3 separate regions of the Homo sapiens genome follow, and all the other regions are linked to region 2. Evidence: fine-mapped expression QTL. A gene starts in region 2. Each other region holds a variant in brackets. All regions are shown on one strand. Distances are between the middles of the regions.

Region 1 (5,227 bases), 89 kb after region 2:
CCTGCCTAGGCCTTCCTAATATGTGTGGGACACAGTTCAGCAGAGGTGGTGGCTGCAGTAACCTACTGCCATCATTACAGCACCTCCTCCTGCCAGCCTGCAGTGCACCTAGCCCCGGCCCCTCACACAGCTCTTACCATAGGTGGGGTTTTGGACACTATGGGGAAGGAAAAGTGGGGAGCAGGCCTGGCCAAAGAGAGGCTCCTTCACCTCCCTCTGCTCATCTAGCAGGTAGCAGCCTTTTGAGATGGCATTCCAGCTGCCAGTGCTTGGGCCCCCTGCCTGACAGGTATGGAGACCTCCCCATCCTCAGCCAAGGCCAGTGTGAGCTAGTGCCTGAATGAGCCTTTCATAGATTGCCAACCCCTTCCTCCACAGCAGCACAAGTGGATGCCTAGGGTGCAGGGCCTGTGGAATTCAAAGGTTAGCTGCTTTATCTGGAAGGAAATGTTGCTATTTCCTGGAGCAGTTTCATAAGCCAGGGCCTGCATGGTACAAGTCCTGAAGCTTGTCCCTTTGTTAACAATCCTTTCTAGCTTCTGCCAGTCCTGAGGCTTCACAGGTATTAGCAAGATGGCATTAAAGGATGTGATACTGGATGTTGCCTGCACCCCATTTCCCAGATGAGGAACCCTAGGCATCTGTTTGAAGCAAGGGGAGCTTCAGATATAGGAAAAGTACTTACAAAACAACAGTGTTAGTTGAGACAATATATTCTACTTCCTTGGTCCAAGGGTTCATGAAACTGAACCATCGACTCCGTAGTGTGATAAAAGAACCATCTTTGATTTTAAATTTATAGCAATTAGTTGTAATTTTTTCTCTCGTCTGTAAAACTGAAAATGTAAAGAAAACATGGACATTGTTGTTTTCTCAGACCAAAGTATTAAACAGGACATCCAATACAAAATATTAAAGGTACTTGAGCTCCAACGACATCGCTCTTTAGTAAGCCAAGGAAACTGCAGTGGTCAACACTCAGGAAATAGGTTGTTTCTGAGGGTCTAACTCAGAGCCTTTCAATTCATTTGTGAAGCTGTCATGATTTTCCATAGTCTGTAAAATTGAGGCTCTAGGGAATTACTGACTGCATGTTATACATCTAACTGGAATCAGCTCTAACATGACCACCAGCAAATGAGAAGGCACTGTCCAAAATGTCATGCTTTATCTCAATCACAAAGCCCAAGGGCAATATAGAACTTATCTCATTTCTAAGAACATCCAAATCAACAGAGGCTACTCACCTATTCAACCTCATTCTTTCATGTAACATGTAATGAGCCCTTCTCATGTGCCAGGCACTGGAGATACAAGAGGAGACAGGCTATGACTCCTGCCCTCAAGAAGAGTAGTGAGGGAAGGCTATACAGGGAGAAGAGATCAGAGCCTTGAGGGATGAACACGAGTTTGCCAAGAGAAGGAGGGAGGGAAGAACCCAGCAGTGCCTGAGGAGCAGCAGGGTCTGGTTGGGGAGAGGCCAGTGAGGTCAGTGTGCCTGGAGCACAGGCCTCTGCAGGCAGGGATGGGGACTGAAACTGAGGAGGTGGGCTGGGGCCAGAAGGTGGAAGGTCTCACATTTGATTGCCTGTCAAAAGCATTTGGGCTTGAGTCTAAAGCAGGAGGTTTTTAAGCAGGCTGATGTTACCAGGCTCAATCTATCTGGGGATAAATAGGATAACTATGGAAGATGAACTGGGGGTGAGAGGGATCAGAGAAACCCTGAGAAGTCTATCACAGGTCTCTAAGTAGGCACGAGGGCCTGAACCAGGGTGATGGCAGAGGTGGTAAAAAGTAGACTTTTGGAAATGCATGTCTGAGGTGAATGAACAGGATCTGGTGGAGACACAGTGAAAGAAGGGGTCAATGTTGGTCTCTCTCAGGAGCCTGCACATGAAGCCACAGCATTAGTCAAGACAGAAAACACAGGAGGTAGTGCAGGCTTGAATGGAAAAGAGAATCAGATCAGTCTGGGCCATACTAAATCTTTACAGGGTCTGGGAAAACCCTCTGAACAAGAGATGTCTTTCAGAAACTGCCATGCAGTCAGCACAGGGCAACTACAAGGGGGATAAACAGTGCCTGCAGGTATCAGCTTCCTCTTCACACAGATGTTCTGACCTGAAGAGTCCTAGGCTGGCTGACTCTACATCCTCAGTGGACAGATTTCCCTGGAAGGTCATGTTGACTAGTCTAGAAGCAAGGGGACACTTTCAACTTAAGATCTTTCATACATCCTAGCTTACCTTGCCTATGACATTCTGCAAGATGTCCTATGTCATCTTGGTGAAAATATTCATAACACGATGTGCCTAGAAGTTCTTGTGGTAAATATGCCAAAATAGCTGTTGCCCTAAAAGGGAATAAAGGAATATTTAAAGAAGAAAAAGCCATTCAGATGATTAATTGCAACTTTGCAATGGATAAACCCTGCTACAGCCTATGAGAGCAAGGTCAAAGCTGCAGGCAAAAGAGCTGGATGGATTTTCAGAGGGCTCACTGTGTGGATCTTTCTCTCTTTTTTTCAGGCATCTGAATTTAATCAAGGCTATAAAAATAGAGGGAAACAGAGCAAAGCCTTTGTAAAGGGACTATTATCACAAGAAATCAAATCTGAGGGGGCTTTAAAAATTGCAACCAGTCGGGCATGGTGGTTCATGCCTGTCATCCCAGCACTTTGGGAGGCCGAGTTGGGCAGATTGTCTGAGCTCAGGAATTCAAGATTAGCTTGGGCAACATGGTGAAACCCTGTCTTTACCAAAAACACAGAACAATGAGCTGGGTATGGTGGCACATGCCTATGGTCACAGCTACCTGGGAGGCTGAGGTGGGAGGACTGCTTGAGCC[C/T]GGGAGGTCAAGGCTACAGTAAGCCAAGATCTCGCCACTGCACTAGATCTAGCCTGGGTGACAGACTGAGATCTGTCTTTAAAAAAGGAACCACATTAATTAGATTAAAATGTGGTATAAATCTAAACCTCAGTGCAAGGCTTCTAGTTTTTGCTGCCTCCTTTTTATCAGGACAACCAAATGCCAGAAGCTGCAGCAGCTGAGGCCACAAGACAGCTGAGGCTGTCTCTTTTTCCAGCATGTTGTGGCTGTCTCTAGTAGCCAGAAAAATTATTAGCCTGTGCATATTCTGAGGGAAAGCAGTAGGCAGCAGTAAATTTGGGACACCTGGGTCCTTGGTCCAGGTCTATTACCAATTAATTGTGAATCCTACAGGAGACCAGTCCCCAGGCTGGCCTCTGTTCTTCATCCATAAAATAAGGAGGTTGGATTAGATCAACGCTGTCCAACAAGACTTTCTGTGATGATGGAAATGTTCTATGTCTGTGCCGTTAGCCACATGGGAGGCTACCATGGCCAACGAGTATTTTATTGGACAGCTCAGGACTAAATAATTGCTTCCAAGTCCTAGATTCAAAAGAATTTCAATCACAATAATGGTTCTGGAACATTCCATAGATTCAGACAGCATGCTATCCCTACTGTTTTTCTTTTAGCCATGGACATCAAGGCACCCCACTTAATTGTCTCTATATGCCAAAGAATGACAGAAAAATCTCTGTATTTATGATGATATCCTATTGAATCTCATTTTTTAACAGAGACTCTCATCATTTGTCTCTTTTTTTTTGAAACAGGGTCTCACTCTGTTGCCCAGGCGGAAGTGCAGTGGTGCAATCACAGCTCACTGCAGCCTTGACCTCCCGAGGCTCAGCTGATCCTCCTGCTTCAGCCTCCAGAGTAGATGGGACTACAGGTATGTGTCACCATGCCTGGCTAATTTTTGTATTTTTAGTTGAGACAGGGTTTTGCCACGTTGCCCAGGCTAGTCTCAAACTCCTGGGCTCAAGTGATCCACCCACCTTGGCCTCAAAAAGTGCTGGGATTTGAGGTGTGAGCCACTGCACCCAGCTTTTTCTTTCTTTCTTCATTCTTAGAAAAGCCAGCTGATGGCCCAGTCTTCTCTGCTTTTTAGATCAGGGTTGAAAATCCTCTACCATCATTGCTCAAGGGTAGTATGTAGACTCTTACCTCTGGTCTACAAAAACAAACTTTCCATCTATCGCGTGCCGAGAAACATATTCCATAGATTTCACCCTGATTTCCCCGTTCACTGGTTGTGGAACTACATGAGAATGCAGTCGTCCAATTGCGACGAGGCAGCTGAGGTTACACCCCTCATTGTCTGGTTCGTTGTCTTCATCCAGCCCCATCTTTGTGGGTGGCCAGCTTTTCAAATAGCCTGTGCTGTGGATTGTGCAGAAGCTTTTTCGATCTGCTAGAAAGCAAAGTTCGTGGTTAGTGTCAGCACTAGGTTTGGGCCATGGAGGTGTACACGGCCGATGGTGGGATGGGATGTAGGTAGGGAGTCAAAAAATAAAAAAAAATCAAGGCTTCACTCTCCAGAAGTAAGCATCTAATGAAAGGGGCAGACGGAAAGAGAAACAAACTGTCATCCAGTGTCAGAATGCTTAAGTAGGGCCAGTTATACCATGGACATTCATTACATACACCAAGGAAGGAATATCTAACTCTTCCTAGGGAGAGGAAGGCTCCCCCAAAAAACCAGTAGAGGAGGTGGATCAAGAAGGATGAGCAGTGGCTGAGGGACTAGAATGTATAAAGGCTGATGACGTACACAGGCACAGAGGCACAGCCTATATAGGAACTGGCCAAGAGCTCTGTGTGGTTGAAGTGAAATTGGAGGTACTGGGAGTGAGGGGCAAATTGGAAAGGCAGGTTGGAGGAAGATTAAAAGGGCCTTGGATTACTTTCTAACCAATGTTGGTCTGTCTTTTTAAGGCAGGAAATGGAGAGCATCTACAGGTATTTAAGTGCAGAAACAGCAAAATCAAATTGTGGTTTGGATGCTGTAGGAGCAGAGTGACGTATGAACTGGAAGACAGTAGAAAACAGAAGTAGGAAGGCTGATTCAGGGGCCAGTGGCTATAATACAGCAAGAGATTAGGAGGACTGAACTATGGCAGTGCAGTGAAGATGAGAGGGAGCAGAGAAAGAAAGCAGGAGAAATTTCTGAGATCAAACTGTTGGGATTTGCTGTGAATATCAGGCTTAAGGGAAAGAAACAAATGAAGATGACTCTAACTTTTCTGGATTGGGTGGTTGCTGGTGTCATTCACTGACTCAGAGAAGAAAGAAAACAGACTAGAAGAGAGAGAGAGAAAAAAGATAGTTCGATTTGGGACACATTAAATGTGGA
Region 2 (5,227 bases):
GCTGGGATTACAGGCGCGAGCCTCCGAACCCGGCCGATTAATTTTCTTTTAAAGCAAAGAACAGTAGAAACTTTATTCGATTTTCTATTTTCTCCCAACTCCCATTCTCTTTTGTTTTTGAAGAACAGCAGAATGAAATGAGCTCCAGGACCCATCCAAGTAGGATATGATGGTTTGAACAGATTCCAGCATGGAACAAAGTTTCCATATTTTGCCTGAAGTCTTTCATTCATATGATTCTTCTAATGCTTCCTGGAAAATTCCAAGAACTTGATGTGAAATTATGCTTAACAGAACACCCAATTGGCCTATGGCAGGTGCATTAGTCCATTCTTGCACTGCTATAAAACAAAGAGGTTTAACTGGCTCACGGCTCCGCAGGCTGTACAGGAAGTCCGACGGCTTCTGCTGGGCTTCTGGGGAGGCCTCAGGAAGCTTACAATCATGGCAGAAAGCCAAGGTACAGCAGGCACGTCTTATATGGTGGGAGGAGTGGGGCGGGGGTGGGGGGGCGCCACACACTTTTAAAGAACAGATTTCACCAGAACTCACTATCACCAGAATGGCAAAAACAGGGAAATCTGCCCCCATGATCCAACGACCTCCAACACTGGGGATTACAATTCCACATGAGAGGTCAGGTGGGGACATAGATCCAAACCGTATCAGCAGGGTTAGAATAACTTTTTTGTTTTCCTCCTAAGTGTTGGGCTTATTCGTAGGGAGAGTATGGTAAGCCAAATAAAACTATAGTATACATAGTATTTTTCATATAGTATACATATTTTTATATGTAATATGAAAATAATGTGTCCAAAGGAAGGTGAGTGGAAACTACAGCAAAATACCAGAGTCTTTCTTTAGAAAAGGACAGCTTCTATTTTGATGTAAGAGTATGGCTCCTCATTAGCCCTAACTTGGACTACAGAATGACTTCTTCTGAGCAGAGCTTATAGGAGAAAATTTTGATAATAAATCAGGACTGATGACGTTTTTGTTTTTTGCCTGAGAATTTTCTCAGAGTTTCTCTGAGAAACTGTATCACAAAATTCCTATTAGATTGCTCTTATGTAGACAACTTGAAATTATTGGCAATTTCCAATTTAGCAAAATGTTGGCTATAATAACTTAGTGAATTACGACAATAACCCGTTTCTCTTAGGTTTCTGATATTTAAGTGTCCTTACAGGAGAAAGATGAAGTTATCTTATAATTGTCCAGCTCAACTGCTCATCTTCTTAGCATAAACACTGATTTGGAAAATACTTTGCGTATCACACGTAGGAGCCTGGGAATGTTCTCATCCGAACTAAACAGTGGTTAAAGGTTTTTCAACAAAGTTCTTGCTGCAATATCTGTTTTCATACCCAATTACTCAAACCAGGTCCTCTTCCTCTTTGCTTCCTCTCCTTGCAATGCCCTTCCCTCTCTTCCCTAAACTGGAGAACTTACTTATGCTTAAGATTCAGCGCAATTGTCACTCCCAGGTGAAGGCTTTCTCAACAAGGCCTCCCCGTCTGCTCCCAGAGCTCATGGCAAGCAGCTCGGCTTTTATCAGAGAATAATGGGATTATCTATTTTCCTGTAGGTCTTGCCCCGGGGGTGTAAGCTTCGAAGGCGGAGACTGTGTCTTTTACATTTTTTCCCGTTTTTATTGCCCAGCCAGCCCATGTAGGTGACTCTCGGTGTTTCCTAGGCGGCCAAACTGAAGGAGTTTCAGCTGGCACAGGGGTTCCCGCCAACCGAGCGTTTAAAAATAAGCAGCGGGGGACGTTAGGGAACAGAGGGTGTCCCTCACGACGACCGACTCTCATCAGGTCCACGCCGGCAGAAGCGATTTTGCAGTTTGCTTTGATGAGGAAAACGCTCTCCCTGAAGAGTCCCTGCACTATTTCTCCAACTCTGTGACCGAGACGCTGTCCACTTTTCTCTAACGGTGACAGGAAGTCAAGGGGAAAACGTGGGATTCAAAGGTTTGAAGGTAACAGCCCTCAGCCACTCGGGCTCGAGGCCCGCGGTTGACCCGAGCTGATGTCTGTGAGGAGAGGTCGCGCGGCGCCTTCCTCTCCACGCGCCTGAGATCCCACCCGTGGCCGCCGCGCCCTCAACTGCCTTCTCCTTCGGTGCCCCGCCCACCCCTGGGCGGAGAGCACCGTTCTCGCGAGAACGCTGCTGGCCTCGCCTCTTCGCATTGTGAGCTCTCGCGGTAAGAGGCTGAGGAGCCGGCCTGCAACCTGCCGGGGCGGCTCCGCTACGCGCAGCCGCCTCAGTGGCTTCCTCCACAGCCACCTCCGGAGGGATCTGGCTGAGGAGGAAGTGGAGGTGTCACTGGCCCCGGCCTTTGCCCCAATCTTGTGTGGGCACTGAAGGGGGACTACAGGTTCGAGAGTGAGTGGACTCAGCTGGGGAACTCGGCGGGGGCGGCGCGGGAGGCTGGGCTTGGCCGGGGCGAAAGAGGAAAGGGGCGGAGGGCGAATCTGGGCGTGAGAGCCAGGCTGCTGCGGCGGTGGTCTGGGCGGCCGGACCCTGCTCGGGTACCGTGGGTGGCGTTTTGGGCTCCGGCCACGAGCACCCAATTAGGAGAGGCCGGGATAAGACTTGAGTTTTGCGGCTGCTGCTTTTGGGTTGGGAGTCCGGGGGCCTTTCTCCGGGGATGAAGGCGATACCCTCATCCCTTTCCAGGGCAGAGGAACCCCGTGCCCCGCCCCTTTCCTGTCATCTCAGACGAACGCAGCGACATCCTGAGGAAGGCGCATCACAATAGGGGATAAGGTGGTGGGCAGCCTCCCTCTGGGTGAAGAGGAGTGAGACCCCACTAACGTGCTGCGTGGTTTTATGTTGTAACCATTTTACGTGTGGTAAAGCTTTGTTTTCTTAAAACTTGCACGGAAAAGGTTCTGATGTCTTTCTTCTTCAGATGCAGGTGCCCTGACACCCTTATCTTTGGGAATGGGGCGGGGGAAGGTGAGACATCGGTTAGTAATTTGTTAGTGTGGGCCAGTGTGACTGTCCCTGGGCCTCACAGATTTCCTGCTTCTCCTTTCTCAGTATTCTGAGTCCATGATGAAAAGTCACTAGTCCAGACATGCTGAAAGATAGAGCTTCACTTGCTTGTGGCTTTGTGCACTTAGTAAACAAGATTATTTTACGAAGATTTATTATCTTGCAGAGTTTTCATGCTTTTTATTTAAATTAGCAATCTAAATGAAACAGCACAGGATATTAATTGTATTTGGACAACTGAGTTCCTTCCCGCCCCTATCCTCCCAACCCCCCAACTACACAAATTTGATCAAAATCTTTTAGAGAGGGGGTTAGGGATAAATTTTCAATGAAAGAGACTGTGGAAATCGGAATAAGAGATATAATAAAGAATGCAGCCATAACGGCCAAAAGAGTTTCTGTATTAGAGAGCCTGTCCAGGATTGAAGTTCAGTCCTGAAACCCAGGACTGCAGTTGTCATTTGAATATAAAGCGGAAAGCAGTAGAAAATACTTGGGAAGGGATTTGAAAGTGGACCAAGACTGGTAAAAAAAAAAAAAAAAAAAGTGTGAGAAGAATTATTTCTGATGATGTAAATGTGTTTTATAAATTTTCCCAATATTTCTCAGCGTGTATGACCTAACAGCTATTATATTAATACATACAAAGTAGGAAGGAAGTTTCTGAAGCATGGAATGTGGTAAGGAACCACCAGAGAGTAACAGTGTTCAATCAGGAAAGCTTTTAGTGTTTCAACAATGTTTTTGTGTTCGTTCACCTTTTTTCTCACTCCCAGAAAAGCTTTCAGATAGACTTCTAACCCTATGTAATTATGTTACCCTTCCACCAGTCTGAATTTTCTTCTTTCTCACTCCCTCTAAGCCATGTGAATTTTTTAAATTATTAACTATGGAGTTGCAAACCACTGTGGTCTGCTTTTGGCTTTTTATAATAGGTGACTTAGGGAAGTATGGAAGTGATATGGAAAATATTGTGCACCTTTCAAAGCCATAGCATGAGCAACAAACTCACATGCCTTCGGGTACTAGTTAGATAATGAAAATGAGGGAAATGCACTATGCCTTATCAGAGAGACATCCAAGTCTCAGGTCCCCCTAATCAGTGCTATATAAGAATATGGACCCCATCTTCAGCATTCTCAAGAGAACTCGGAAATCTAGATTTTTGCATTCAGTGTCTTGCGTCTTAAAAATATTGACAACTAATTAAAACCATTAAAAATATCATGTGACTGAATCAAATCCAAACCTGTCCATAGTTGTATTCTCCTCTCCAGTTTAGAAGCTCTGTTATAAATCAAAATTAATAAATTTTATGACTGGAAAAAAAGGAGGTTTAAAGCAAGTTTGGAGTTTCAAACTTAAGGGGTCTTGGGAAAAATGTCACATCTAATTGAAAACAGTAGTTAAGTTTAATAGCCTTTAAGTATAGTTATAGTAGGGCAATTTGAACTGGTATTTACTATAAACGTTTTAACTGTGGAAATAACTGAAGAAAAAGCATCTCAGTATTTATGGTTTAAAAACTCAGAGTTCTGAGCAAAGCTGATTTATAGGTATCTTGTACAGAAATTGAATTATTTAGAAGCTCTTTATTGTATTTGCAGCTAATATATAAAATTAAATACAAGAGACCCTCTACAGTCCATTTCAGGATTTGAATGTTTATTGTTTGCTGTGCTATCCCACATTGTCTTCCTAGGCATTGACTTACTGGAAGAAATACTGATCCCTTGGATTTTATTCCATGCCAGATGGAGATTGGAGGGGTTTGGCAACAGGATGGAAAGAACTGGGTGGAGAAAGTGTGATGTGAAGCAAACACTCTTGTGCCCCTTCCTTACATTGTTCATTAAAAGATTGATTTGTGTTAGTTTTTCTTGTAAGAAGGATAGGTATATTAATTGATTAAACTTAGTGCCTTATACATAGTAGAGTTTAATGACGTGTGGAATTGACCTTTGTGGATTAAGCCTCATTTACCCATTAATGTGAAGTAATTTAATCACATAATCTGATTCATACCTAGTTGGGTTATGGGGAATGGGAGTGCTAGAGGTCAAAGCTAAGTAAGAGGTGTTTTTTAGGCATATAGAGGGCAAGTTGGGGGTCTTCACTTGGGATAAGGGTGAGAGAGGAAGTTAGGTAAGGGAGAGAATTTTGAAAAGGAAGATGAAATGATTAAGTACCCATTTGTGTATTGTGCAGTTTTAAAAAGAGGTCT
Region 3 (5,227 bases), 35 kb after region 2:
TTTTGAAACAGTGTCTTGCTTCGTTGCCCAGGCTAGAGTGCAGTAGCATGATGACCATGACTCACTGCAACCTCAAACTTCTGGGCTCAAGCAATACTCCCACCTCAGCCTCTCAAGTAGCCGGAACCACAGATGCCTGCCACCACTCCTGGCTAATTTTTAAAAAATTTTTTTGTAGAAATGGTCTCACTATGTTGCCCAGGCTGGTCTTGAACTCCTGGGCTCAAGCCATCCTCCCACCTCAACCTCGCAAGGTGCTGGGATTACAGGCTTGAATCACTGCGCACAGCCTCTTTTCATTCTCTTAACACTGTTTTTTGAAGATCAAAAGTTTTTAATTTTGATGAAGTTCAGTTGTCGGTTTGCTCTTTTATGCATTAGGCTTTTTATTTCTAGAAGTTCTGTAGTTTTAAGTTTCAGATTTAGGTGTGTGGTCCATTTTGAGTTAACTTTTGCATATGATGGGAACTATTGCACAGAGTTCTTTTTTTTTTTTCTCTAGAATTGCTGAAAGTGAAATACCTATTGTATATTCATTTGTTCCAGCACCATTTGATGAAAAACTCTTTCTTCCCTGAATTGTGTTTGAGCCCTTGTTGAAAATGAGTTGTCCATATATATGTATGTGAGTTCTTTTCTGGAGTCTTCATTCTGATTCATTGATCTATGTGCCTGTCATTATGCCAGTAGCACACTTTACTCATTACTACAGTTTTTTAATATGTCTTGAAATCAGATCATGTTAGTCTTCCAACTGTTCTTTTAAAAAAATTATTTAGGCTATTCTAGGTCATTTGCGTATTCATATGAATTTTGGAATCAGCTTGTCACTCTTGACAAGCAAGCCTACTTGGTTTTCCATTGGGATTATGTTGTATCTAGTAGATGAACTTAGGGAGAAAATTGACTTGTAAAGACGGTAGGTTTCTCCATTTGTTTAGGTCTTCTTAATTTCAGTAATGTTTTATAATTTCCAATGTGTGAGTTTTTCACATCTTTTGTCATATTTATCCCTAAGTATTTCAGGTTTTGCCAATGTGTGAGTTTTTCACATCTTTTGTCATATTTATCCCTAAGTATTTCAGGTTTTGGTGTTATTTGTAAGTAGTGTTTTTAAAATTTCAATTTTAGGTTGCGTATTGTTGGTATATAGAAATAAAGTTCATTTTAAAATACTGATTTTGTATTCTGCAACCTTGCTGAACTCATTGGTTCTAGTAACCTTTTTTTCTTACTAGAGCCTACAATAGATGATCATGTTTTCTGCAAATAAAGACAGTTTTACATCTTAATCAATCTGAATGTCTTTTCTTGCCATATTGCACTGGCTATAATCCTCAGTACATTGTTGAAGAAAAGTGACAGTAGACATTCTTATTTCTGATTCTTATTTCTGATTTTAGATGGAGAGCATTTGGTCTTTGATTACTATTCTTTTTTTATGTATTGCTGGATTTGATGTGTTAAAATTTTGTTTAGAATATTGATATTTGTGTTCTAAGATTTGTGGTTTTATTTTCTTGTAATATTTTTTTCCACTTTCTTTTAGTTCAAAATTTTCTAATTTCCTTTTTGATTTCTTTATTGCTCTGTGAGTTGTTTAGGTAAAGGTATTATTTCATTTCCAAGTGTTTGGGAATTTTCTAGATATTGGTGTCTGGGCAATGTTGGTCTCATAGAATGAGTTGGGAAATACTATCTTCTCATCAATTTTCTGGAAGAGCTGTGTAGGGGTGATATTATTTCTATCTTAAATGCTTGGTAGAATTTGTCAGTGAAGCCATATGAGCCTAGAGTTTTCTTGGAAGGAATGTTTTAAACTACAAATTAAATTTCTTCAGTAAACAGAGCTATTCAACCTTTTCTTAAGTGAGCTTTTTTGTAGGTTTAAATTTGTCCATTCTGAGTTGTTGAATTTATTGGCTTAAAGTTGTTTATAATATTCTTTTATTATTATTTTAGTATCTGTAGCCTCTCTTATTTCTGACATTGGTAGTTTGTATCTTCTCGATTTTTGTCCCAAGCAGTCTGGGTAGAGGTTTAACAATTTTATTGACTGATGTCATTTTTCTTAGACCTTTCTTCTTTTCTAATGTAGGAATTTAATGCCATAATTTGCCCCTAAGTACTGTTACAATGTCATACCATGCCACAAATTATGGTATCTTGGGGTTTTTTCCACTTTCTTTTAGTTCAAACTTTTCTAATTTCCTTTTTGATTTATTTATTGCTCTGTAAGTTGTTTAGGTAAAGATATTATTTAATTTCCAAGTATTTGGGAATTTTCTAGGTATCTCTGTTATTGAATTTTACTTTAATTCCATTGTAATCAGAGAACATACTTTGTATGATTAAATTCTTTTAAGTTTATTGATACTTGTTTTATTGCCCAAAATATGATCTATCTTGAGAAATGTTCTTCTGTGTGCACATGAAAAGCATGAGTTTTCTGCCCTTTTTGGGTGTTTTGTAAATGTCAATGAGATCAAGTCAGTTGATAATGTTATTCAAATCTCATCAATCCCTACTGATTTTCTGTGTAGTTTTTCTGTTAAATATTGTGAGAGAGGTGATGAAATCTCTG[A/G]TGATAATTGTGGAATTGTCTAGTTCTCATAGTTTTATCAGTTTTTGCTTCCTGTATTTTGAAGCTCTCTCATGAGGCAGAGAAACATTTGGATTGTTATGTGCACTTAATAAATTAACCCCCTTATCTTTATGAAATACATTGGTGATATTCTTTGTTCTGAACTCTGCTTTGTCTGATATTAATATAGCCACTCTTGCTTTCTTTGAACTAGTGCTAGCATAGTGTATCTTTCCTCATTCTTTTATATTGAATCTCTTTGTACCATATAGCATATAGTTGGACCTGGCTTATTATTATTATTATTATTTTAAGACAGGGTCTCCCTCTGTTGCCCAGGCTGTAGTGCAGTGGTGCGATCTCCGCTCACTGCAGCCTTGACCTCCGAGGCTCAAGTGATCCTCCCACCTCAGCCTCCTGAGTAGCTGGGACCACAGGCATGTGCCACCACACCCAGCTAATTTTTGTATTTTTTGTAGAGATGAGGCTTTGCCACGTTGCCAAAGGCTGGTCTCGAACTCCTGGGCTCAAGTGATCTGCCAGGCTGGGGATCTAGCTTTTATATCCAATCTGATAATCTTCACCTTTTATGGTTTAGACAGTTTACATCTAAATGGCTAAGGCTATCTGTATTTAATGTGATTATTGACATGGTTAAGGTTAAGTCTTGTCCTGTTATTTATTTTCCGTTTGTCCCATTTGTTCCTTTTCCTTCTTCCTCCCAACCCCTTTTTTCCTTTGCCTTCTTGGATTAGCCAAATCCTTTTTTATGATTTTATTTTATCTCCTTTTTTGGTATATTAACTGTATTTCTTTTGTTTTCTTATATTAGTGGTTGCTTTAGTATTAACAGTATACATCTTTAACTTATCACAGTATACCTTCAAGTGATGTTATACTGTTTCTTGTGTGGTGTAAAAACCTTACAAAAGTATACTTGCATTTCTTTCTCCCAGACTTTGTGCTACTCTAGTTATATGTATATGTTATAAACCCCATATTATATTATTATCATTATTGTTTAATCTTTTATAGAGATTTAAACAATTAGAAAAAAATTATATTCTTCCATGCAGTTACTTTTTCTAGTAGTCTTCATTTTTTTGTGTAGATTCATATTTTATCTGGCATTAGCTTTTTTTTCTGCCTGAAGGACTCCCTTTTAACTTTTCTTGCAATGCAGGTCTTCTCATGATGAATTCATGTGTCTTTTTTTGCCTGAAAATGTCTGTACTTTCTTATTTTTTTTCGACAAATCAATGCAGATCCTTCTTATTTTTGAAAGATGTTTTTACTGGCTGTGAAAAACCTAGGTTGACAGGGTTTGTTTTCATTTTTTTTCTTTAAAGTGTTTGTAGAGTTTGTTGTGCATATTGAATCTGTGGGTTTGTAATTTTTGCCAAATTTGGAGAAAGTTCAGATATTACTTCCCTTTTTTCCTTCCCACTTCCTTCATGGACTCCATTTACACCTATATTAGGCCACTTGAAATGAACCTGCAGCTTACTCATGCTGTTTATTTTTCTGTTTTCTCTTTTTTATTTTGAATATTTCCTATTGCGTTGTCTTCAAATTTGTTAATCATTTCTTCTATAATGTGTAATCTCCCATTAATTCCATTCGGTGTGCTTTTCTTTTTTAAAGTTATTTTTAATTGACATGTAACATGTAATAATTATACATATTTAGAGGTACTGAGTGATATTTCAATACATGTATACAGTGTGTAGTGAGCAACTCAGGGTGATTAGTATATCACCTCAAACATTTATCATTTTTTAAAAATGTCAGGAACATTCAAAGTTCTCTCTTCTAACCATTTGGTAATATATAATAAGTTATTGTTAACTATAGTCATTTTAAAGGGCCATTTAGTATACTTTTCATCTCACATGTAAACATTTTTATCTCTGGAAGCTTGATTTGCATTTTTTTAATCTGGTATGTCTCTACATTGCTTTTTGGAGGGCTGTGGTTATAGTGACTTTTTAATGTTTTTATTTCTCATTCTAACGTATGTGTCAGTTCACGTTTTATTTCACTTGATGTTTTTTTTCCTCATGGGTTATGTGTTCTCACTTCTTTGCATGCCTGATAATTTTTGATTGGATGCCATACATTGTAAATTTTACCTCATTTGTGTGTTTGATATTTCTTATAAATATTCTTGAGCTTTGCTTTAGGATTTAGCTATAGGGAAACAGTGTGGTCCTTTTGGTCTTGATGTTAAAATTTATTAGGGGAACTGGAACAGTGCTCAGTCTAGTTGTAATTATTTCCCATTTTAGAACCTTCTAATTCTCTTCCCAGTGCCCTATAAATTATTAGGCTTTCCAGTCTGAACCAGTGGGAACAGGACCTATTCCTGACCCTGTATGAGTGCTGGGCACTATTTCCTCTAATCCTTTGAGCTGTTTTTTTTCCCCAGCTTCTTTTCATAGTGTCCTCACATGTGTGACTGGTATCCAGCTCAGTACTCAAGGAGGACTCTGCAAATTTCTGAGGTTTTCTCTCTGTGTTACACTCTCCTCTCTGGTACTTTTCCCTTAGAACTCTAGCCATCTCTTATCCCAATGTCTCAGCTCCATGTCTTTCACTCAGAGTCCACTGGGTTCTGCTTGTGTTTCCCCTTTCTGTGTTTAC

Direction of the effects. Positions count from the first base shown, and alleles are read on the strand shown. Sizes are in standard deviations (SD) of each study's normalised expression. Not every link is listed here.
With allele T in place of C in region 1, the expression in uterus of the gene that starts at base 2,258 in region 2 is higher (moderate effect, 0.50 SD a copy in GTEx).

Evidence for each region. PIP is the estimated chance that this variant, and not a neighbour inherited with it, causes the effect. A credible set is the group of variants that fine-mapping cannot tell apart.
Region 1: its variant is the best candidate, but not a certain one, in a credible set for the expression of BTBD10 in uterus (GTEx, PIP 0.68).
Region 3: its variant is the best candidate, but not a certain one, in a credible set for the expression of BTBD10 in whole blood (INTERVAL, PIP 0.53).

The regions. Positions count from the first base shown.
Region 1 is chr11:13,371,221-13,376,447 of GRCh38, reverse strand. It overlaps BMAL1 (basic helix-loop-helix ARNT like 1), which reads right to left. Exons shown (of 20, transcript NM_001297719.2): 13 at 4,039-4,285; 14 at 2,247-2,353; 15 at 686-836. Among named protein-coding and RNA genes, the nearest start is that of BTBD10, 89 kb to the left of the region's middle. The variant C/T (reference allele first, on the strand shown) is at 2,848.
Region 2 is chr11:13,460,253-13,465,479 of GRCh38, reverse strand. It overlaps BTBD10 (BTB domain containing 10), which reads left to right and starts at 2,258. Exons shown (of 9, transcript NM_032320.7): 1 at 2,258-2,388. RefSeq lists an enhancer at 1,889-2,078.
Region 3 is chr11:13,424,886-13,430,112 of GRCh38, reverse strand. The region is part of intron 2 of BTBD10 (BTB domain containing 10); the gene reads left to right. Among named protein-coding and RNA genes, the nearest start is that of BTBD10, 36 kb to the left of the region's middle. The variant A/G (reference allele first, on the strand shown) is at 2,585.